Linked DNA regions of Homo sapiens. The gene in region 1 interacts genetically with each later gene. Each region holds a gene or a part of one and is shown on either strand. Other genes may lie near its edges. The genes, in order: GRAP2 and MAP4K1.

The links.
Region 2: of GRAP2 (region 1) and MAP4K1, changing one enhances a phenotype caused by changing the other (phenotypic enhancement), as found in Homo sapiens cells (one study listed by BioGRID).

What each region holds. Positions count from the first base shown.
Region 1 is NC_000022.11:39,951,173-39,962,932, reverse strand, and holds part of GRAP2 (GRB2-related adapter protein 2), read right to left. Parts: intron 7,115-11,760; coding exon 7,023-7,114; intron 2,879-7,022; coding exon 2,759-2,878; intron 2,537-2,758; exon of another isoform or gene 2,014-2,536; intron 1-2,013. UniProt on the Homo sapiens protein: Interacts with SLP-76 to regulate NF-AT activation. Binds to tyrosine-phosphorylated shc.
Region 2 is NC_000019.10:38,585,370-38,596,942, forward strand, and holds the end of MAP4K1 (mitogen-activated protein kinase kinase kinase kinase 1), read right to left. Parts: intron 11,118-11,573; coding exon 10,943-11,117; intron 10,633-10,942; coding exon 10,570-10,632; intron 10,361-10,569; coding exon 10,271-10,360; intron 10,187-10,270; coding exon 10,116-10,186; intron 7,969-10,115; coding exon 7,913-7,968; intron 3,907-7,912; coding exon of another isoform or gene 3,809-3,906; intron 2,449-3,808; coding exon 2,379-2,448; 3' UTR 2,272-2,378; downstream 1-2,271. Other genes in the region: RYR1 (ryanodine receptor 1), read left to right, coding at 569-633, 722-822, 1,156-1,207, 1,956-2,051. UniProt on the Homo sapiens protein: Serine/threonine-protein kinase, which plays a role in the response to environmental stress. Appears to act upstream of the JUN N-terminal pathway.

The DNA.
Region 1 (11,760 bases):
CTTTGGGAGGCTGAGGCGGGTGGATTACATGAGGCCAGGAGTTCAAGACCAGCCTGGCCAACATGACGAAACCCCGTCTCTACTGAAAAAAACCACACACACACAAATTAGCCAGGCGTGGTGGTGCGAACCCATGGTCCCAGCTACTCAGGAGGCCAAGGCACGAGAATTGCTTTGAACCTGGGAGGCGGAGGTTGCAGGGAGCCGAGATTGCGCCACTGCACTCCAGCCTGGGCGACAGAGCGAGAGTCTGTCTCAAAAAACCAACGAAACCACAAAAACCATAGTTTCTAGCTGAAAAAGCCAGAGTCATCTTCATGCAAACCAAAGGCCCAAGAGATACCCCTCAGTCTAACAAATTACTTGGTCAAGTTTATGATGGGGTAAAGAGGGGAGGCTTAAGAAATAGATTTGACTTGTAATATATATACACGCATGTTAAATATATGTATAATTGTTTTTTCTAATAATATATGTATATAATATATGTAAATAATTTTTTTCTCTTGAGACAGGGTCTTGCTCTGTCACCCAGGCTAGAGTGCAGTGGTGCGATCGATCTTGGCTCACTGCAACCTCAACCGCCCAGCTCCAACAATCCTTTAACTTCAGCCTCCCAAGTAGTTGGGACCACAGGCATGCGCCACTGCACTGGGTTAATTTTTTATTTTTAGTAGAGATGAGGTCTCACTAGTTGCCCCGGCTGGTCTCCAACTCCTTGGCTTAAAGCATTCCTCCCAACTCAGCCTCCCAAAGTGCTGGGATTAGAGGCATGAGCCACGGCGCCCGACCCTGACTTGTAATATATGTTAATGGAGCGAAATTTCATTAATTAAGACCTAACAAGATTAGAATTTGTGATACATCAATATTGGCCTGAACTAAAGTTAACCATTCTCCAAGCTATGAAAATAAAGTTTTTACTGAAGAAAAGAGTTTAAGCAAGATTGCAAGGGCAATGCTAAAGAGACCACTTTAAAGGTATGTATGCATACAAATTGTTGACCTGTTATTTTTAAGTCCTTCCTACCTATCCTTTCAAATATCCATTCTTTCTAAACAGCAAAGTGGCCACAGTTTATTACTTGAGATTGGATTTCTGTCCTTAAAACAAAGCTTTATGCCTTTCAAAATATATTGAATAAACCAGATCGGTATTTCCTGCCAATAACTTGACAGTAAGGTTTTGCTGTACTTCTCCTGATCTGCTAACAGCATTATATTCTTGCAGTTTCACATGTGGTGAAGTCTGATACGTGACTTGCGATCCTCAACATGCTGACCACACACAGTGTGTTCCGAACTGGGCTTCTGAGTTTGGGGCTGTGTAATGTCTACGCGTGGACTGAGTCACTTCCTATGGGTTGCTGCACCTTAGTGAGATTTCGCTGTTACAGTCCTCCCCCACTCCTGGCCCTCTGTTCTGTGGTTTTCGGTCTTGCTGTACTGTACTGTGTTGAAGTAGCCTTTCTTTTTGTTCAGCTGCCTACAACTATACATGTATTTGTTGGGGCTCAGAAAACGACACCCCTTGGCATGCTGAGTGCTTCGAACCAAAGGAGATGGGAAGGTTTCAGAAGCAGCCTTGGAAGCAAAGTCTTCCTTTGGCCTTCTCCTGCCCTCCTGTCTCCCGCTCCTCTTTCTCCCCCTGAGTGAGTCATAGAAATTAGAATTCCTCTTCCCCACAGTGGGTCAGAGAGACTAGAAGGGTCACTATGGGGGAGGCCAAGGCAGGAGGATTACTCGAGGCCAGGAGTTTGAGATCAGCCCAGGCAACACAGTAAGACCTAGTCTCTACAAAGAAATAAGTTAAAAAAATATTAGCCAGGTGTGGTGGTGTGCACCTGTATCCCCAGCTACTTGAGAGGCTGAGGTGGGAAGATGGCTTGAGCCTGGGACACAGAGGCTGTGGTGAGCAATGATTGCGTCACTGCACTCCAGCCTGGGCAACAGCTGTCTCCAAAAAAAAAAAAAAAAAAGAAGACTTGGGACAGGCCTTGTTCAGTTTCCTACCTCAGTCTGTTACCTTAGATCAAACCCCCTTTGTCCAATCCCATTTCTACAGGGCTGTCTGTCCTTTGACAAACCTAAGCATAAAAATAGACGGCTTTCCCTGGGTCTTGGGTCTTCATTTCTGAAGGCTTCTGTGTCACACAAGTCTTTGATTAAATAAATGTGTCCACTCTCCTCTTGTTAACCTGTCTTGTAGGAGTGTCAGCTGTGACTCCTCTGATGGGCAAAGAAAGGTGCCACAACTTTTCCGCCCCTGTATATCCTACAGCAGTGACTTGAGATTTCTATTTTTCTCTGACTCTTCTTCAGATATGCATCAATCATAAAAGAAAAGGTTAAGATTTAAACCCCCAGATGGATCTGGACAAGTGGGAGTTCTCCTCCTCCTATCCCTCCTTCCTTCCACAAATACTCACTGAGTGTCTCTCTTTTATGCAAGACACTGTTAAAGGCATAAAGATGAAGTAGAGGAAAATCCTGCCCTTCCAGAAGCACCTGGGCTAGAAGGGGAGGCAGATGGGCGTAGAAATAATTTCAAACACACACCAGTGTTCTAAAGAGTGGTGTGTGCATGTTTTGGGAAGGCACTGGGAGCAGCAGGTTGTGAAGCTGCTGCCATGCTTGGCCCCTAGGCCACCATGCTTCTGACCATTGGGTCATATTCCAGAGGTCCCTTCATGGCTTCAGCATTCTGTGAGGTTAACAGGCCGAGAAGGGCCAAGGCAGTGTCAGGAATGGTCAGTACCTGACAGAGATGGAGAAGTCCCCTGGGGAGCTCTGGCTGGCCCGGATGATGAAGAAGCCAACCTCCTTGCCCATGAGTAAGTTCTCTGCCTGGTGTCGAGAGAGGCCTTCGTGAAACCATCTGTGGGGGCGAGATCAAACAAAAGGATCAGGATGAGACACAGGAGTGACAAGAGGGAGACGTGGAGAAGAGGTGACCCAGAGGGAAAGAGGCTGGGGACTCTGTACAGTAGGGAGCAGAGAGAGACCAGGTGCTGTTTGAAATCAAACCAGTGCTCCAGGCAGCTTTCAGGAAAGGCGAGGGAGCATTCCCCTTGATTCACCCTCTTTGTTCCTTCTCTCCAGGAGAAGTCTCTCTCCAGCCTGGGAAACGAATCATGGAAATGTGTCGCTGCACCAAAATGGGGCAGTGTGGGAGTGACTCACTGCAGGAAGCAGCCGCCTGCCGGCAGCTGCGGAAGAGATAGACCAGAGCTGCGAGGACAGAGGATGCACTGGGGAGGGAAGGGAAGGCTTCAGGCACTGGAGCCAACCAGGTGCAGCCGGCTGAGCAGGGCCTGGGGTGCTCATGCCTGCCCTGAGGTCTCAGTGGCCTAGAGGTTCCTCCCTGGGTATTAAAGGAAAGTTACAGCCCAGGGCGTCACGTTACCTAGGCTGGCATGGAGCACAAGGGGGCTTTGCTCAGTGTGCCTAGCAGAGGCTGCAGTGTTCCTAGGGAGTCCAGTGTACATGCTTGGAAATCAGCGAGGCTGGCAGCCGCCAGAGAGCGGCGTCTATACAACCAGATCCTGGGCCTGCCCCAAAAATCCAGGCTGGGAAATAATCTTTACTGTGGAAAAGAAGAAACAGGAGAAATTACTCTTTTAGCAGAATGGTCAGGGTGGCAGCCCCTGGAGGTACAGCTGCATACAGCGTGGCATGTATGAAATAGGTCAAACACTTACACAGGGCCAGGCAAGCTGTGGCTGCAGCCTCAAAGCAGGAGGCCAGAGACCTCTCTCCACCACAGACAAGCAAAATGAGTGTCTGCAATCACTCAGCGGCCAAAGGTGGGACTGTGTCACATTGCTTCAAGGTGGCTGCTCTAATTGCTGTCACCAGAAGGCTCATACGCATGTTCCTTTAAGATAAAAGCCCGTCAGGCCTTGGCTTTGGATTCCTTTGTGAGCAATTCTCTGTGCTTTCTAGAATTTGGGAAACTGAGACATAGGTAGCAGGAAGGATGTACTTACTGGAGACTGAGTCCCCCACTGGGACTGAGGGGGAAGTTTGGCTGTGCTCTGAGAGGGCTGAAAGCAGCAGTTTCTGGTGGCCTGGAGATTCTGCCTGAGTATTTGCCACACAATTCTACAGGGCTAAACAAGAGGCCACCACACACACCACTGCCACGTGTGGGAAATGTAATGGGGATGGGAAGAGGAATGGAGTATGCACCACAGCAGCCATATCGCAAAGGAAACATTTCAGAAGTGAAGGGGATTTAGGAAATACACATTTGTCCTCTGACTGCAATCTGATAGGGGGCTTCTTTAAAGATTTGTAAAAATCACCACACATTGCATATTAGACATGAGTGGTCATGGTTTCAATAATACATATTCGTTCGTTCATTCATTCATTCATTCATTCAACAGCTTTACTGAACATCTAGTACTGTGCTGGGCCCCTCCTGGGCACTGGGGACACAGTAGTGGGCAGAACAGACACACACCCCTGCCCTCAGGGAGCTTACATTCTAGTCGAGGGGGACACACACAAAAGAACAAAATAATTAAGATCTGAAGCGTGCCAGATGATGGTAAGTGCTGTGGAGAACATGAAAACTGAGAGGAGAGATGGGGCGCTGTGGGTGGGAGATTAATGTAAGGTATGGTGATGAGAAAGACCTCACTGAAAAGGAGACATTCTAAACCTATAGGGGACTGGGGAGTGGGAGGAACCAACACAAGAGACTGAGGAGGAGAAGCCAGGGCAGTGGGAGGACAACCGGAGGAAGGACGTCCTGGAGCCAAAATGAAAGAGGTGTTCCAGTGGGAGGGGGGATCCCCAGGGCAGGTCATGCTGAGATGACCCCTGGGAGCTACAGCCCATGGGGAGCCTGGTGGGAAGGGTCGGGAGATGAGGAGTTGGAAGTAGCAAATGCACACACTCCTTTTGAAGAGATGGAGTGGCAAGTGGAAGGGGATTTGGGATTAAGAATTTTCTTGATTTATTTATTTATTTAAATTTTTTTTTTCTTTGAAACAGAGTCTCTCTCTGCTGCCCAGGCTGGAGTGCAGTGATATAATCATGGTCCACCACAGCCTTGAACTCCCAGGCTCAAGCGATCCTCCTGCCTCAGCCTCCCAAGCAGCTGGGACTATAGGCGCATGCCACCACGACCAGCTAATTTTTAAAAATTTTTTGTAGAGATGGGGCTCGCTATGTTGCCCAGGCTGGTCTCAAACTCCTAGCCACAAGTGATCCTCCTCCCTCAGCCTCTCAAAGGACTGGGATTACAGGCATCAGCCACAACAAAACCCACCTGGCCTCTGGGTTTGGTTTTGTTTGTTTGTGTTTTGGTAAGTTGGGAGAAATTGCAGCGTGTGTGTTTGCTGACAGGAATGATCCAGCAGAGAGGGAAAGGAGGTTGACGTGGAAGAGAGAGAGAGGAGAATTTCTGCTAGAAGCAGTGACAGTTCCTTCCAGCCAGCTGCAGGAAAGGCCGACTGTTTGAGCACACTTGCAGGAGGCAGGTGGATGCGGTGGGGGAGGGGGGTCTGGGAGCTTCACTTCTGGTGGCTTTCATTGTTCCAGAGAACCTGGAATCAAGGTCACGGGCTAAGAGTGATGCACGGAGGGGCTGAAGGTTTGAGGAGCACGTGGGGTATGCAGAGGTCACCTAGCAGATTCCTGGGCAGCATCAAGGGTTCCGTCAAGGTCAGTGGTCATTCTCTTGGTTTGGTGGTCAGTTCAGGTTTACCAAGACTGGTGCTCTTGCACCTTGCTGGAGTCACCAATACTACTGTGGTTTTCTAACAAGCTTTTGCTCTTTGAGCTAGACCCTGGTTCTGAGGCAAGATTAGATTTCTATCTAACCCTTGTGGTCAATTCTTGAGACAAACGAAGCCCAATCTCAATTTTTCATTTCCTCTTTAGGAAGAGAATTTCCCCTTCCCCCCGCTGACTTCTCTCATTGGGGTGAGCATGCTTTACTGAAGGCAGGGAGTGTCTGTCCACCCACTGAGTGAAGGGTGAGAGCCTGGTGAGGATGGTTAGGATTAGGAGGTCACAGAGAAGCGCTTAGGAGAGCAGCTCCCGAAGTGGGGTGGCCAATAGCGTCCCCTTTGGAATTCTGGGGAACGCCGTGATTGAAATCACTATAGATAATTTGAGTTTACAAACTCATTTTATAAAAACTTAAAATAGGCCGGGTGCAGTGGCTCACACCTGTAATCCCAGCACTTTGGGAGGCCGAGGCGGGTGGATCACCTGAGGTCAAGAGTTTGAGACCAGCCTGTCCATCATGGTGAAACCCCATCTCTACTAAAAATACAAAAGTTAGCTGGGTGTGGTGGCATGCACCTGTAATCCCAGCTACTAGGGAGGCTGAGGCAGGAGAATTGCAATGAGCCGAGATCATGCCACTGCACTCCAGCCTGGGCAACAGAGCAAGGTTCTGTCTCAAAACAAATAAACACATGAATAAAAAAACCCAAAAAAACCCAAAACTTAAAATAGGCCAGGCATGGTGGTTCACGCCTGTAATCCCAGCACTTTGGGAGGCTGAGGCGGCAGATCACTTGAGGTCAGGAGTTTGGGACCAGCCTGGCCAACATGGTAAAACCCTGTCTCTACTAAAAATACAAAAACTAGCCTGGCGTGGTGGCATGTGCCTGTAATCCCAGCTACTTGGGAGGCTGAGGTGAGAGGATGGCTTGAGCCCAGGAGTTTTAGGCTGCAGTGAGTGGTGATGGAGTCACCGCACTCCAGCCTGGGTGACAGAGGGAGACCCCAACTCCCAAAAAAAAAAAAAAAAAGTTAAGAACAACTTAAAATAGCAATACATGCACATGGTGTAAACATCAAAAGGGAATGAAATGAAATGCAAAGTCTCCCTCCTGCCCTGGCCTTCAGCTGCATGCTCTGGAGGCTCTCCGGAGAGAGCTCCAGAGGCAGCCATTTTTGACAATGTCTTGGGTTCCCATGGATAACTGTAGTGACTGCTGGAAATGTAAGAGGAGTGTGTGTGGCTAGGCCCATCTCAGCAGGCTGCAGATACTTACTTGGGAAACTGGATGTCTATGAAATTCTTGGGCACATATCCTTCCTGGCTCCCAAGCTCCGCCTTAAACCACTCCTCTTGGTTACTTAAAATCTACATGGAAGAAAAGGAAAGACAAAGACATTGGAGGGAGGACACCAAAAAAACAAGAGAAAGGGGCTGCCAGGCAAAGAAGGCCCTTTTGGACTTAGAGGAAAATATGTTAATAAGTTGAAAGAACTCAACAGCTGTTCTAGGATTTACCCCAGGCCTGTGGAGGAGCCGTGGGTTTACCTTTGGAGTCAGCTTCTCCTGACCCCAGGTTATTTCTGTCCACTTGTGCCGTCCACTCATGTCACCCCACTGTGGCTTGGCCTCCCAAATTCAGCACTCAAGGACTTCCCTGAATCCCTTTTTCTATTTTGGAAATTCATTTGTCCCAGTTAGCACCTTAAGTTCCTCATCTCAGCAGATGGTGAGAAGGAAGAATGGTTACTCCACGGTGTATTTTTTTTTTTCTCTTCCAGGTAACCAGGAAACTTTTCTCTTTTTTTTGTTGTTGTTTTTCGTTTTTTTGAGACAGAGTCTTGCTCTGTCGCCAGGCTGGAGTGCAGTGGCGGGATCTCAGCTCACTGCAACCTCCACCTCCTGGGTTCAAGCGATCCCCCTGCCTCAGCCTCCTGAGTAGCTGGGATTACAGGCATGCGCCACTACACCTGGCTAATTTTTCATATTTTTAGGAGAGACGGGGTTTTACCATATTGGCCGGGACTGTCTTGATCCTTTGACCTAGTGATCCACCTGCCTTGGCCTCCCAAAGTGCTGGGATTACAGGCGTGAGCCACCAGGCCCAGGAAACTTTTCAAAAATTCAATTTGTTATTGTTTTTTAAACAGGCAGATTAAAACTTAAACATCCCAGTGGGGCCAGCTTTGGAAACAGTAACTCTTTGTGTTCACATGCTGTGTATTTCACAGATATTTGGCTGGAACCCAAGATACTTGGGATGCCTTTTCTAAACTTGCTTTTAAAGCCAGATCCCAAACAAAACCAAAAGTTCTGTCTTGTTACTCTGTGGCCTGACTTTGACTGTGACCCCAAATGTTATTGTCTACCTCAGTTACTCATATTACTCACCAGACTTGACTGTATGTGGCTTCTGGTTTCTCAAAAAATGAGATTCACCATTAAAAGACAAAATATTTGACACCGCCACTGAGAATGTTTTGAAAGTCTGAGGCCAGGTGTGGTGGCTCGCGCCTGTAATCCCAGCACTTTGAGAGGCCAAGGCACATAGATCACTTGAGGCCAGGAGTTCGAGACCAGCCTGTCCATCATGGTGAAATGCCATCTCTACTAAAAATACAAAAAGGAGCCGGGCCTGGTGGCACATGCCTGTAATCCCAGCTACTCGGGAGGCTGAGGCAGGAGAATTGCTTGAACCCAGGAGGCAAGGTTGCAGTGAACCGTGATCTTGCCACTGGACTCCAGCCTGGGCAACAGAGCAAGCCTCTCTCAAAAAAAAAATTTTTTTTAAGTCTTTGATATAGACTAGAACAATAATTCTAAATAAGGATAGCAGAGCAAAAGATGGAAAGAACTCTGATAATGTCACTGAACCGCTGAATTAGATGATACCCAGGAGCCTTCCTACTTCTGGACTTTGAGAAATTACAAGTCTTTGTTATTGTTTAAGCCATTTTTAGTTTATGTTTCTTGCTCCTGAAAATATCTTAACTGATAGAAGTGTGATGATAAAGAAGAAAGCAGAAATAGATAGAAAAGGCATCCATATGTAGAGGAGAGACCACTTGCCTTGGCAACGAAAGGAGTTACTGAGGCCAAGTCAGATGGCAATGGACTTCCTCCTTCAGCTCTGAGGAGGTGTGGTGTGTTCTGGGAATGAAATGCCTCCAGGTGGCTGGAATGTAGACTGTGAATATCTTGAAATGTAGGGGGAGCCCTTAAAGGATTTTGAGCAGGGAAGTAACAGTAAGAATTAGAGTTCAGAAAGAGCTCTGGCTGGGTGCGATGGCTCATGCCTGTAATCCCAGCACTTTGGGAGGCCCAAGTGGACGATCGCTTGAGCCCAGGAGTTTGAGACCAGCCTGGGCAACAAAGCGAGACCTTGTCTCTATGAAAATAAAAATAAAACTTAGCAAGGCGTGGTGGAAGCGCACCTGTAGTCCCAGCTACTCAGGAGGCTGAAGCGGGAGGAGGGTGTGAGCCCAGGAGTTAAAGGCTGTAGTGAGCTCTGATTGTACCACTGTACTACAGCCTGGACAACAGAGAGAGACTCTGTCTCTAATTAAGAGAGAGCGAGAGAGCGACAGAGCTCTGTATCAGAGATCAGAATGTGAAGATAGATTGCAAGGCTAAAGTCGGCAGAAAAACTGCAGGAAGATGAGCGCAGGCCTCCAGTCAAGAGATGATAGGGCCTAGGCTAAGAGGAGGTGAGGATATATTTTAGAGAAATTCAGGAAGCAAACAGGCAGGATTTCTTGACCAATCTTGGAAGCTAAGGGAGAGGAGGACTCTGGGATGCCACTGGATTTCTGGCTTGGGAGACTGAGTAGGTGGTGACGGCTTTACAGAAATAGAAGATACATGAGAGGAGGCAGGGCTGAGAAAGGGCTCATGGGCTTCAGATTGCATGCGGGTGACTGTGAGTTGAATTCTTCAACTAAGAAGAAAAGCTCAGGGAGCAGCTGGATATGTCAGTCTGGACCCAGGAGAGAGGCTAAGGTTGGGGCTTGGGGTTTCAGAGTCATCAGAAAGTGGGTGGAGTTGAAGTCACAGGGCCCTTGGGCTTCTTTCTCCCAGAAAAGAAGATGGGAAGATAATGGAAAGAACTAAGTGCTTGAGTGGAGATGATGACCTATTTCTAACATCACTCCAAGGTGGAAGGAAGGGGACAGTGTTGTGAGTTGGGAACGAGAAGACCTGGTTTCTAGCTTGGCTCCATCACTAGATATGTGATCTTGGCCAAGTCAATCAGCCATTTGAAAAATGGAGATAATAATAGCCACCTAGCACCTCACAGAGCTGATGTGAGGATCAAATGAGCCCTGGTACCTGAAAGTCCTTCAGAAAGTGTAGACTCTTTTCAAAAAATACAATTCCATCAAATGTGGTATTCTTATGAGGGAGGCCTCCAGCTCTGAATAGGACATGGAAGGGTTTATACGTTCTTTAAAGCATTATGTGTGTATGTTTTGAATTTAGTCATTTATTCTGAAGGAATAAAAGTGTGTCCCATATTTGAGTTTGAGATTGCTGAGAACAGAAAACTTTATAGTTTCTAACATCAAATGTGACTGCTGGTGTCACTAAGGACATGTGGGTATGTGTGTGCTGAGGGGGCAAGGGAGGAAGCAGAAAATCTAGGTCAAAAGAACTAGGAAACCCAGCAGCAGCGCCTCGTAGCCACGTAAAAACACAAGAGCACACTGCACTCCATCCATCGCTTCTGAATTCATGGCATTGGAATTCCTTTCTCCCGTCACATGGGAATGTGGTGTTTGGCCAGGGTAGCAAATGTCACACAGAAAGGGGTAAAAGAGGCCATTTGGAAACTACCTTGTCACCGTAAGAACCACACGTTGAGGCCGGGTGCCATGGCTCACGCTTATAATCCCAGCACTTTGGGAGGCTGAGGCGGGTGGATCACCTAAGGTCAGGAGTTTGAGACCAGCCTGGCCAACATGGCAAAACCTGATCTCTACCATAAAGACAAAAATTAGCCAGGCATGGTGGTGCATGCCTGTAATCTCAGCTACTTGGGAGGCTGAGCCACGAGAATTGCTTGAACCCAGGAGGCGGAGGTTGCAGTGAGCCGAGATTGCGCCATTGCACTCCAGCCTGGGCAACAGAGCAAGACTCTGTCTCAAAAAGAAAAAAAAAAAAAAAAAAACCACACACTTTGTACTTCATTTTCTGACCTGAAAGCAGCTCTGTAATTTTAGTTATCATGCCTCAGACCTCCTCTAGAAACTGAAAGATTATCCCACAATGCCAGCCATTTCTCTCCGCCACCTGGTGCTTGGTCTGCCTAACACTGTGTTTCTAGAGAGGTGAATTTGCAGGCTCTTTACCATGTATAGAAGGTGAGGTTTTTTTTTAAAAAAAATTCTCATTTTCTGCAAAGAAAAGTATTTGAGGGGAGGGGAGATGGTTTCCTCCTGCCGTTGTGGGCCCAGGGCCCCACACTTCCTGTTCTTCTCATCTCTCCATCTGTTCGGTTCCCCCTATCTCGTGTACCCATCGTGTAAACCTGAGCAAGGCGTTCAGCCTGAACACTTGAAGTTTTACTCTTGACTGTTTCTTAATTCTTATAATGTTCCCTAAGAGATGATTTTTTGGGTTACATGGCCTGTGAATAAGTTAGACGTGGGAAGAGAAGGGCCAAATTACGGCTGGAAGAATTTTTAAATTGGATGAAATTGTAGCTTTTAGAAACATAGCAAAAATCTGAAGTATTGAAGAAATGAATTATGTGGAATTAACTCTTAGTGCTTTTAGGTTGCTATTTTAGCAGGAAGAAATGAGGTCGCATTAGCTGCATTACAGAAGGAGACAGAAATGGACTGGGTCAAGAGATATTTTTCAAAGCTACTGGCAAATTTAATGGCAAATTCAAATGTGAGGCTGGTGCTGTGTGTAGCTGCAGGTATGGTGGTTTGTGGCATGAATAGGAAAAAAATCTGATTCCTGAGTTTCCAAATGTTTCCGTCATAGGAGAAGCAGGATCAAGTCATTTG
Region 2 (11,573 bases), on another chromosome or scaffold:
ATATATATATATATATATGTTTATTTATATATATATGTGTTTATATATATTTATATATGTGTTTATATATATTTATATATATGTGTGTGTGTCTATATATATATATGTATAATTTTTTTTTTGAGAGGGAGTCTCGCTCTGTTGCCCGGGCCAGAGTTCAGTGGTGCAATCTTGGCTCACTGCAACCTCTACCTCCCAGGTTCAAGCGATTCTTCTGCCTCAGCCTCCTGATTAGCTGGGACTACAGGCACATGCTACCACACCCAGCTAATTTTTTTTATTTTTTTATTGTTAGTAGTGAGGGGGTTTCACCATGTTGGCCAGGCTGCTCTTGAACTCCTCACCTCAGATGATCCGCCCACCTCAGCCTCCCAAAGTACTGGGATTACAGGCGTGAGCCACCGCACCCGGCCAATAAAGGCCTAATACTATCTTCTTAGGAAGCGAGATTAGGGGTGAGATTAGGGAAATGGGGGATGGAGGGCAAGCCCTGGAGGTAGGTAGCTGGAGAGGGGGGAGTCTGAACCAGGTCAGAGGTCGGGCACTGACTTGTGTCCTGCCACCCCAGGTCTGATCATCGACGCTTTTGGTGAGCTCCGAGACCAACAAGAGCAAGTGAAGGAGGATATGGAGGTAGGTCATGTCTGGGGGTGACCCAGAGGGATTACGGGATTCAGGGGGTCAAGTGGGCCTCCACTCTGATGTCTCTTGCCACTCACAGACCAAGTGCTTCATCTGTGGAATCGGCAGTGACTACTTTGATACGACACCGCATGGCTTCGAGACTCACACGCTGGAGGAGCACAACCTGGCCAATTACATGTGAGCAGACACACTGGCCAGTCAGGAGGGTGGGGGGCATGGCTGCCAATAGCCAGCAGTGGGGTACTTAGCTTTGGCCAGTTAGGAAAGGGGGTGTAGTGTCCATGTGGGCAGATTCCCTGCCAGCCAATCAGAAGGTAAGGGTGGGGCCCCGCAAGATGGTTCACACCTGTAAGCCCAGCACTTTGGGAGGCCAAGTGGGGAGGATTACTTGAGGCCAGGAGTTCGAGACCAGCTTGGGCAACATAGCAAGACTTCCTCTCTACTATAAATGAAAAATAAAATAAGGTAAGGGTGGTTCTGACTTGTCTCCTGTGGTCCTCTCACCCTCAGGTTTTTCCTGATGTATTTGATAAACAAGGATGAGACAGAACACACGGGTCAGGTAAGGGGGTGTTAATGGGAGGACAGTGGGCAGGACGTGGAGCCCTTTAACATAAGGCCAGTCAGTAGGTGGCAGTAAAAAGCTCCTATCAATATCAAGGGTTAGGGCTGGGGGCTGGGCACGGCGGCTCACGCCTGTAATCCCAACACTTTGGGAGGCCAAGGCGGGTGGATTACTTGAGGTCAGGAGTTCAAGACCAGCCTGGCCAGCATGGTGAAATTCAGTCTCTACTAAAAATGCAAAGATTAGCAGGGCGTGGTTGTGCATGCCTGTAATCCCAGCTACTTGGAAAGCTGAGGTGGGAGAATCGCTTGAACCCAGGAGGCAGAAGTTGCAGTGAGCCAAGATCATGCCACTGTACTCCAGCCTAGGTGACAGAGCGATACTCCATCTCAAAAAAAATGGGTTTGGGCTGGGCGTCCTGGCTCACGCCTGCAATCCTAGCACTTCGGGAGGCCACAGCGGGAGAATTGCTTGAGACCAGAAGTTCAAGACAGCCTAGGAACACAGCGAGACCCTTTCTCTATTAAAAAATTAGCCAGGGGTGGTGGTGTGCACCTGTAGTCCCAGCTACTCTGGAGACTGAGGTGGAGAATCGCTTGAGCCAGGAGGCTGTAGTGAGCTGTGATTGTCGCCACTGCACTCCAGCCTGGGCAACAGAGCAACACCCTGTCTAAAAATATATATATATATATGTCTCAAGGGTTTGAAGATGTGACCAATGAACTCTTTCTATCCCCAATCCTAGGAGTCTTATGTCTGGAAGATGTACCAAGAGAGATGTTGGGATTTCTTCCCAGCTGGTGATTGTTTCCGTAAGCAGTATGAGGACCAGCTTAGCTGACACACCCCCAGCTGGCCCTCCACCCCCACCTCAAGTGCCTTATTCTCACAGCAAGCCCCTTAGTCCCCAAGCCCCTCCCCCTAAGGCAGCTGGGGGAGAGGTGACCTAGTACTGGAAAATAAATCTGTGCTACGCCCCCCAGCATCACTGTGTTGGCCTGCTGAAATTTTGGAGGAGTGGACATCCAGGAATTGTTTCCCCCAAGAAAAACAAGATGACAGCAGAGGCTAAAGTCATGTTTATTGGGAGATGAGGACATGCCATGACCACTAGTGTGTCTATGGGGGAGGGGGTGCAAGGACTAGTTCCTGACACCCCCCTAGGGACTCATTCCTGGATGTAGAGGTTGCTGGGAGCAGTAGGATCATCCACTGGGCGTGTCTCCACCACTACAGGCCTGTGGAAGGAAGAGATAAGTCAGTTCATTTATTCATTCATATGTTCATTGATTCATTAATTCACAAAGTAGTTAATAGAGACTGTGCCAGCCCCATGCTGAACTATAGCAGTGAATGGGCAGACACGGTCCCTGCCCTTAGGAAGCTTGCATTCTAGAGAAGGAGATCAACATGAATCAGTGAATTACATGAGTGCAAAAAAGCATGGCATGTCTGGCAGGGAAACCTAACCCAGGAGGTCAGCCCAGACTCCCCAGAGAATGGATGGTGCAGCCTGAAGGGGGGTTAGGAGGGAACTTGGTGAAAGGGCAAGGAAGAGTGTTCTGGCTGGGGAGAACAGCCTGTGCAAAGGATTTGAGGTGGGAGAAAGGCTGGGACTTGGCTGGAGATGTCATGGCCTTGTGGGCTGTGGCCAGGATTGAGTCTTTATCTTGAGGCCATGGGAGGATTTTAAGCAGGGAGACAGTGACACGATCAGATTTGGATTTAAAGTGACCCTTCTGGCATGTCAAAAGGACACAGGGGCTACTTAAAGTGGTTCCCACTGGCTAAATTTAAGACCATTTGTGCCTCAAAATAAATAATGACAAGGCCGGGCATGGTGGCTCATGCTTGTAATCCCAGCACTTTGGGAGGCCAAGGGGGGCAGATCACTTGAGGTCAGGAGTTCAAGACCAGCCTGGCCAATATGGTGAATCCCATCTCTACTAAAACTACAAAAATTATCCAGGTCCATCCTGGCTAACACGGTGAAACCCCATCTCTACTAAAAATACAAAAAAAAATTAGCCAGGTGTGGTGGCAGGCACTATAGTCCCAGCTACTCGGGAGGCTGAGGCAGGAGAATGGCGTGAACCTGGGAGCCAGAGCTTGCAGTGAGCCGAGATAGCGCCAGTGCACTCCAGCCTGGGCGACAGAGCGAGCCTCTGTCTCAAAAAAAAAAAAAAAAATTTATCCAGGCATGGTGGTGCACGCCTGTAATCCCAGCTATTCGGGAGGCTGAGGCAGGAGGATCGATTGAACCTGGGAGGCAGAGGTTGCAGTGAGCTGAGATCACACCACTGCACTCCAGCCTGGGTGACAGAGCGAGACTCCATCTCATAAATAAATAAATAAATAATGACAGTAATAGACTATAACCCACAGAATAAAAATCCATGAGACCATGCTGGTATAAAGAAAGAAGAATGGAGAAGACACAGCTCTTCTTTAGAGTAGAATGCCAACTAACACACGCAGAAGGAAACATAGAATCAGAAAATCACCATTTATTGTTAGTAGCCACCTAACAATAATAGATTCAGGGAAAAATCAATTGATTCTAAAACTAGTGGGCAGGCCAGGTGCGTTGGCTCAAACCTGTAATCCCAGCTACTCGGGAGGCTGAGGCAGGAGAATTGCTTGAACCTGGGAGGAGGAGGTTGCAGTGAGGCGAGATCGTGCCACTGCACTCCAGCCTGGGGGACAGAGTGAGACTCTGACTCAAAACAACAACAAAAGACAAACAAAAAACAATAAAACTAGTGGGTGAAAATCTGATGAGAAACAACGTATTTACAGACTATTTACCTCGTCTCAGTGAATCTCCCCAAAAGATACTTCTTTTTTTTTTTTTGAGACAGAGTTCACTCTTGTTGCCCAGGCTGGAGTGCAATGGCGCGATCTCGGCTCACTGCAACCTCCGCCTCCCGGGTTCAAGCGCTTCTCCTGCCTCAGCCTCCCGAGTAGCTGGGATTACAGGCATGCAACACCATGCCCGGCTAATTTTGTATTTTTAGTAGAGACAGGGTTTCTCCACATTGGTCAGGCTGGTCTCAAACTCCCGACCTCAGGTGATCCACCTGCCTCGGCCTCCCAAAGTGCTGGGATTACAGGCGTGAGCCACCGCGCCCGACCGGTGGGATACTTCTTATTACAAAGAAAAACAGAGGCTGGGTGCGGTGACCCCTGCCTATAAGCCCAGCACTTTGGGAAGCCTACACAGGTGAATCTCTTGAGTCCAGGAGTTCCAGACCAGGCTAAGTAACATGGCGAAACCCTGTCTGTACAAAAAATACGAAAATAAGCCAGGTGTAGTGGTACGCGCCTGTCATCCCAGCTACCCGGGAGGTTGAGGTGGGAGGACTGATTGAACCCAGGAGGTCGAGGCTGCAGTGAGCCATGATCGCGTCACTGCACTCCAGCCAGGGTGACAGAGAGAGAATCTATCTTTAAAAAAAAAGAAAAAGGGAGAAAAAAGCAACTTCACAGTGGAGAGAACTGGCTGATTCTACCTTAACCAAATGACCGAAGTTAATATCACCAGTAATGGGACAAACTAGCATTGTGTACTTCCTGAAATGATGCACTGAGAAAGACATCTTTCTGCAGTATTCCTGCCCAAAATTCAGAACGTGGAAACCTCAAACACAGTTAAGGGACATTTTAGAAAACAAATTTCCTTTAATTTTTAAAAAGGTCAAAGCTCCTTTAAGACAAAAGAAGTTTTAATTATTTTTTCCGGCTTAATTATAAAGAAACATGGCTCCTAAGTGCCACCTATGATCTTGGACCAGAAAAAAAAAAAAAAAAAAAAAATATATATATATATATATATATATATATATATATATATATATAATCACGGGCGTCACTAGGACAACGGGTGAAATTTTTTGTTGTTGTTGTTGTTGTTTTCTGAGACAGAGTCTCGCTCTGTCACCCAGGCTGGAGTGCAGTGGCGTAATCTCGGCTCACTGCAACCTCCACCTCTCCGATTCAAGTGATTCTCCTGCCTCAGCCTCCCAGCTGGGATTACAGGCACGTGCCACCACACCCAGCTAATTTTTGTATTTTTACTAGAGGTGGGGTTTCTCCATGTTGGCCAGGCCCATCTCCAACTCCTGACCTCAGGTAATCTGCCCACTTCAGCCTCCCAAAGTGCTGGGATGACAGGCGTGAGCCACCACACCTGGCCAACTGGTGAAATTGAGTAGGGGTATGAATTAGAAGGTTGTGATGTTTCAGTGTTGTTTTCTTGATTTTGACAGCTGTGCTGTGGTTTGTAACATTATGTCCTTGCTTTGATTCAGGAAACATACACTGAAGTATTTTAGGGGTAAATGGGCATCACGTCTGCAATTCATTCCCAAATATTCATTAAAAAATCACACACACACACACACACACACACACACACACACATATACTTGTATGTGTGGTGTGTGCGCATAAGAAAGAGAAGAGGCCGGGCATGGTGGCACATGCCTGTAATCCCAGCTACTCGGGAGGCTGAGGCAGGAGGAGTGCTTGAACCCAGGAGTGGGAGGTTGTGGTGAGCTGAGATTATGCCATTGCACTCCAGCCTGGGCAACAAGAGCGAAACTCTGTCTCAAGAAAAGAAAAAAAAAAGAATAATAAGGCAAATGCGGTTAAAAAGATTAACATCTGGCCAGGTACAGTGGCTCACGCCTGTAATCCCAGCACTTTGGGAGGCAGAGGTGGGTGGATCACCTGAGGTCAAGAGTTCGAGACCAGCCTAACCACCATGATGAAAGCCCACATCTACTAAAAAAACAAAAAAATTAGCTGGGCGTGGTGGTGTGCAACTGTAGTCCCAGCTACTCAGGAGGTTGAGACAGGAGACTTGCCTGAACCCGGGAGGCAGAGGTTGCAGTGAGTGGAGATCCACTGCACTCCAGCCTGGGCCACACAGCAAGACTCCATCTCAAAAAAAAAAAAAAAAAAAGATCTGGTTAATCTGGATAAAAGGGATTTTTGCAACTTCTCTGGGAGTGTGAGTTTTAAATTATGTCAAAATAGTTAAAATAGTTATTTTTAATAGTTAAAAATTTTTAATAAGATAAAAATCTAAAATAAAAATGCAGCCAGGGCTGGGCACGGTGGCTCATGCCTGTAGTCCCAGCACTTTGGGAGGCCGAGGCGGGCAGATCACCTGAGATCAGGGGTTCAAGAGCAGCCTGGACAACATGGCGAAAGCCTGTCTCTACTAAAAATACAAAAATTAGCCGGGCACAGTGGCACATGCCTGTAATCCCAGTTACTCGGGAGGCTGAGGCAGGAGAATCGCGTGAACCCAGTGGGTGGAGGTTGTGGTGAGCTGAAATCACGCCACCGCATTCCAGGCTGGGCAACAGAGCAAGAATCCGTCTCAAAAAAAAAAAAAAAATGCAGCCAGGTGTGGTGGCTCATGCCAGTAATCCTAACATTTTGGGAGGCCAAGGTAGGAAGATTGCTTGAGGCCAGCAGTTCAAGGACAGCCAGGGCAACATGGCAAGACCCCGTCTCTACAAAAAAATTTTAAAAATTAGCCAGTTGTGGTGGTGTATGCCTGTGGACCTAGCTACTTGGGAGGCTGAGGTGGGAGGATCAGTTGAGCTCAGAAGGTCAAGACTGCAGTGAGCTGTGTGTGTAACACTGCACTTCAGCCTGCGCAACAGAATGAGACCTTGTCTCAAAAATGAAATAAAATTAAGGCCAGGTGCAGTGGCTCACTCCTGTAATCCCAGAACTTTGGGAGGCCAAGGCAGCTGGATCACCTGAGGTCAGTAGTTTGAGACCAGCCTGGCTAACAAGGCGAAACCCCGTCTCTACTAAAAATACAAAAAATAGCCAAATGTGGTGGTACACACCTGTAAACCCAGCTACTTGGGAGGCTGAAGCATGAGAATCACTTGAACCTGGGAGGCAGAGGTTGCAGTGAGCTGAGATTGTGCCACTGCACTCCAGCCTGGGCAACACAGCGAGACTCTGTGTCAAAAATAAATTTTAAAAAAATTTTATAAATAAAAGAATTAAAATTAAAAAATAAAAGGATTGGCCAGGTGCAGTGGCTCATGCCTATAATCCCAGCACTTTGGGAGGCCGAGGCAGGTGGATCACCGAGGTCAGGAGTTCGAGACCAGCCTGGCCAACATGGTGAAATGCCATCTCTACTAAAAAATATAGTATTAGCCGGGTGTGGTGGCACATGCCTGTAATCCCAGCTACTTGGGAGGCTGAGGCAAGAGAATCGCTTGAACCTGGGAGGCAGAGGTTGCAGTGAACCAAGATCACACCATTGCACTCCAGCCTGGGCAACAAAAGCAAAACTCCATCTCAATAAATAAATAAATAAATAAATAAATAAAAGAATTGCTGGGCATGGTGGCACATGCCGGTAGTTCCAGATACTCAGGAAGCTGAGGTGGGTGGATCACTTGAGCCTGGGAGGTCAAGGCTGCAGTGAGCCGTGGTCGTGCCATTGCACTCCAGCCTTTGAGTACAGTGAGAAACAAAACAAAAAGAGAGAACGCCCCCGTGGCTGCAGTGCAGAGAACAGACTCTAGGGAGCAGGGATGGAAGCAGGGTGACCAGGTGAGACACTGTCCAGGCTAGAGATACCTTGCTGGGGACACCTCAGAATGCTCTCTTCACATCAGAAGCCCCCTCCCAGGTCCTTCTGCACCCCACCCCACAACATACCTGGGGGAGCCAAGCAGACGGAAAGTGAGGGTAGGGTCTCTCAGCTCCTGTAGCAGCTAGGGAAAAAAAGTGTGTGTCTCAGTGCCTGGAAGATACCTCCACTGTCACTACGAACATGGCTCCCTTAAAGACAGCAAGGAGCTGGGCACGGTGGCTCACGCCTGTAATCCCAGCACTTTGGGAGGCCGAAGTGGGTGGATCACCTGAGGTCAGGAGTTCGAGACCAGCCTGGCCAACATGGCAAAACCTCGTCTCTACTAAAAATACAAAAATTAGCTAGGCATGGTGGTGCGCGCCTATAGTCCCAGCTACTCAGGATCTGAGGCAGAAGAATCACTTGAACCCGGGAGGCAGAAATTGCATTGAGCTGAGATTGCGCCACTGGGCGTGCCACTGGAGCCGAGATCTCCAGCTGAGATAATTTTTGTATTTCTACTGAAAATACAAAAATTAGCCAGCTGTGGTGGCGCATGCCTGTAGTCCCAGCTACTTGTGAGGGTGAGGCACGAGAATCGCTTGAACCTGGGTGGCAGAGGTTGCAATGAGCCAAGATTGTGCCACTAACACTCCAGTCTGGGGAACAGAGCGAGACTCCATTTCAAAAAGAGGGAAGGAACTGAGTGAGCAAAAATAAATAAATAAAAATACTAAAGTGTAAGGGCAAAGTCTGACACAGTATTCTGTGAGATAAACACCATTTTCCAAATGAGGACAGTGAGGCACAGGAAGGTTAAGTCATTTGCCCAAGGCCACTCAGCTGAATTCCAACCCAGACAGTCTTGTCTTAACTATCCATATATCTCTATAGTGGTCCCCATTTTACAGTTGGGGAACAGAAGCTTAAAGAGAAGCAACGTTGCCAGCCCAAGGTCACAGTAGTGGCCCAGGATGAGATTGGGACTCAAGAAATCCAAGAGCAGCCAGGTGCAGTGGCTCACACCTGTAATCCAAGCCACTTGAGAGGCTGAGGAGGGAGGATTGCTTGAGCCCAGAAAGTCAAGGCTACAGCTAGCTATGGTTGCACCACTGCACTTCAGCCTGGACAAGAGAGAGAGACCCTATCTCCAAAACAAACAGGCCGGGTGAAGTAGCTCACGCCTGTACTCCCAGCACTTTCGGAGGCTGAGGCGGGCAGATCACTTGAGGTCAGGAGTTCGAGACCAGTCTGGCCAACATGACAAAACCCCGTCTCTACTAAAAATACAAAAATTACCTGGGCATGATGGAGTGTACCTGTAATCCCAGCTACTCGGGAGGCTGAGGCAGGAGAATCACTTGGACCCAGGAGGCAGAGGTTGCAGTGAGCTCGGATCATGCCACTGCACTCTGCCCTGGGTGACAGAGCGAGACTCTGTCTCAAAAAATATATAAAAATGGCCAGGAGTGGTGGCTCACACCTGTAATCCTAGCACTTTGTGAGGCCAAGGAAGGCAGATTGGCTGAGCTCAGGAGTTTGAGACTAGCCTGGGCAACATGGTGAAACCCTGTCTCTACTAAAAATACAAAAAAATTAGCTAAGCATGGCGGCATGCACCTGTAGTCTCAGCTACTCAGGAGGCTGAGGCAGGAGAATTCTTTGAACCTGGGAGGCAGAGGCTGCAGTGAGCCGAGATCGCGCCACTACACTCCAGCCTGGGTGACAGAGCAAGAATCCATCTCCAAAAATAAATAAATTTTATCTATCTATCTATCTATCTATCTATCTATCTATCTATAAAATAGGCCGGGTGTGGTGGCTGACAGCTGTAATCCCAGCACTTTGGGAGGCCAAGGCGGGTGAATCACCCCAGGTCAAGAGTTCAAGACCATCCAGCCTGATGAACATGGTGAAACCCCGTCTCTACTGAAAATACAAAAATTAGCCAGCTGTGGTGGCGCATGCCTGTAATCCCAGCTACTTGGGAGGCCGAGGCAGGAGAATCGCGTGAACCCGGGAGGTGGAGGTTGCAGTGAGCCGGGATCGCACCACTGCACTCCAGCCTGGGCAACAAGAGTGAAACTCCGTCTTAAATAAATAAATAAATAAAAATAAAATAAAAAATAAATCCTGGGGCAAAGAAGGGGATCTATCTGAACTGAAATTTGGAAGATGTTTCCCCTCCAGGACTTCACACTCTGACTCAGGAGTTCTCGGAGCCCATCTGATGAATGTCATGATGGAGGCTGGGGGGCAGTGATGTGGAGTTTGGATGGAGGGGCTTACCTGATCCGAGCCTAGAGCCCACACCTGCACTCCATGCTTCCAGAAGGCCTGAAGCTGACCTCCAACCATAGCTGGGGAGAAAGCAATGCCCGTTACCCTTGGGGATCACTTGAGTTTCCACCCCTGATCCTGGGCTCTCCCGTCCCTGCACAGACCCACGGCCTCCACCGCTTCGGTCATGGGGATCTCAGGTGTGCGAAGTCCCCGGACTGGGGACCCCTCCGGGGTCACCAGCTTCACAGAGCCTGGAAGGAGATAGACGGTTTTAAGAACTGTGAGCAAGGCTTAGAGGGTTACTAAGGGACCAATCCATAAATTCAGTGTGAAAGCTATGTAGGACAGGGGCAAGGCCCAGAGGGGCTCAGGGGGTTCTGAGAAGCACAAGTTCGGAGGCAGAGATCTAGGGACTGCAGCTGGAGGGGTGGGGAGGAAGGGGAGGAAGGAGGGTTCTCACCATCCATCAACACCATCACCATATCTTCCTCTACCTGGGTCACCTGCACGGGTCCCCTGTGCTCTGTTTGGGGGGAGTGGGTTAAGGATTGACCCCACCCCATTCCCCTTTCCCCACACCACCCCCAGAAGGCCAGTACCTGTGCTTTAGCCACCGCCTCAGTTCACAAGCAAGTGGGCTAAACCCCGCCCACCATCCCGGTCCCACCCCATCATCAATCTCCCCAGTTAACTAAAACCTGCCATTCTCCCTTCTCCGCCCTTCCAGCCCTTTCTCAGTCCCGTAGTGCCTCAGGCTAAGCGAAGCCCCGCCTCCAGCTCCGCCCCTCCGGATCTGATAAGCCCCGCCCTCAGCAAGACTCCGCCCCACTCACCGGTGCTCATCTCGCCCAGCCAGCAAGAGAGCGCGCCAAAGCGCACCGTGTGGAAGAGCACCGACTTCCCCGGCCGCCCGGGGCTCACGCCGATGCACACAGCGGGCAGCTCAGAGCCTGGCCCGGTCAGCAGCGCGAACACGGACAGAGGCGTCGGCAGTGGGAACAGCACCTGCTGCGGGCCGCACAGGGAGGGGCGGGCTAGGGGGTGGTTCAGGACGGGGCCTCAGGGGGCGTGGCTTGTAGCTGGCCTGGGACTTCCGAACCAGGGCCCTAAGTCTTGGGGGATGCCGTCTAGAAATGTCAGGGGATAAGGCCTGGTGCCTCCGCGGGAACGGGGGTCGTGACCTCCGAGTGGGTGTGGCTTCCATGTGGGGGCATGCCACCTTGGCGGCAGACGGGCAGGGCCCCAAAGATAGCAAAACCTGCTTAGACACTCAAAGAGACAGGCTCTAAATGGGCTCTACTAGGACACCCAGGGAGTGGCAGCATTGAGCCTGAGGAATAATTAGGCCCAGGTGTGAGGGGCGGCGCTTAAGGATCAGGATGGCTTCAGAAGGACGAGGCTCCAAGCGCAGACCGCAGGTGGGCGGGGCCTCGGGAGATTGGGGCGGGGCCTCGACGGAGGTGG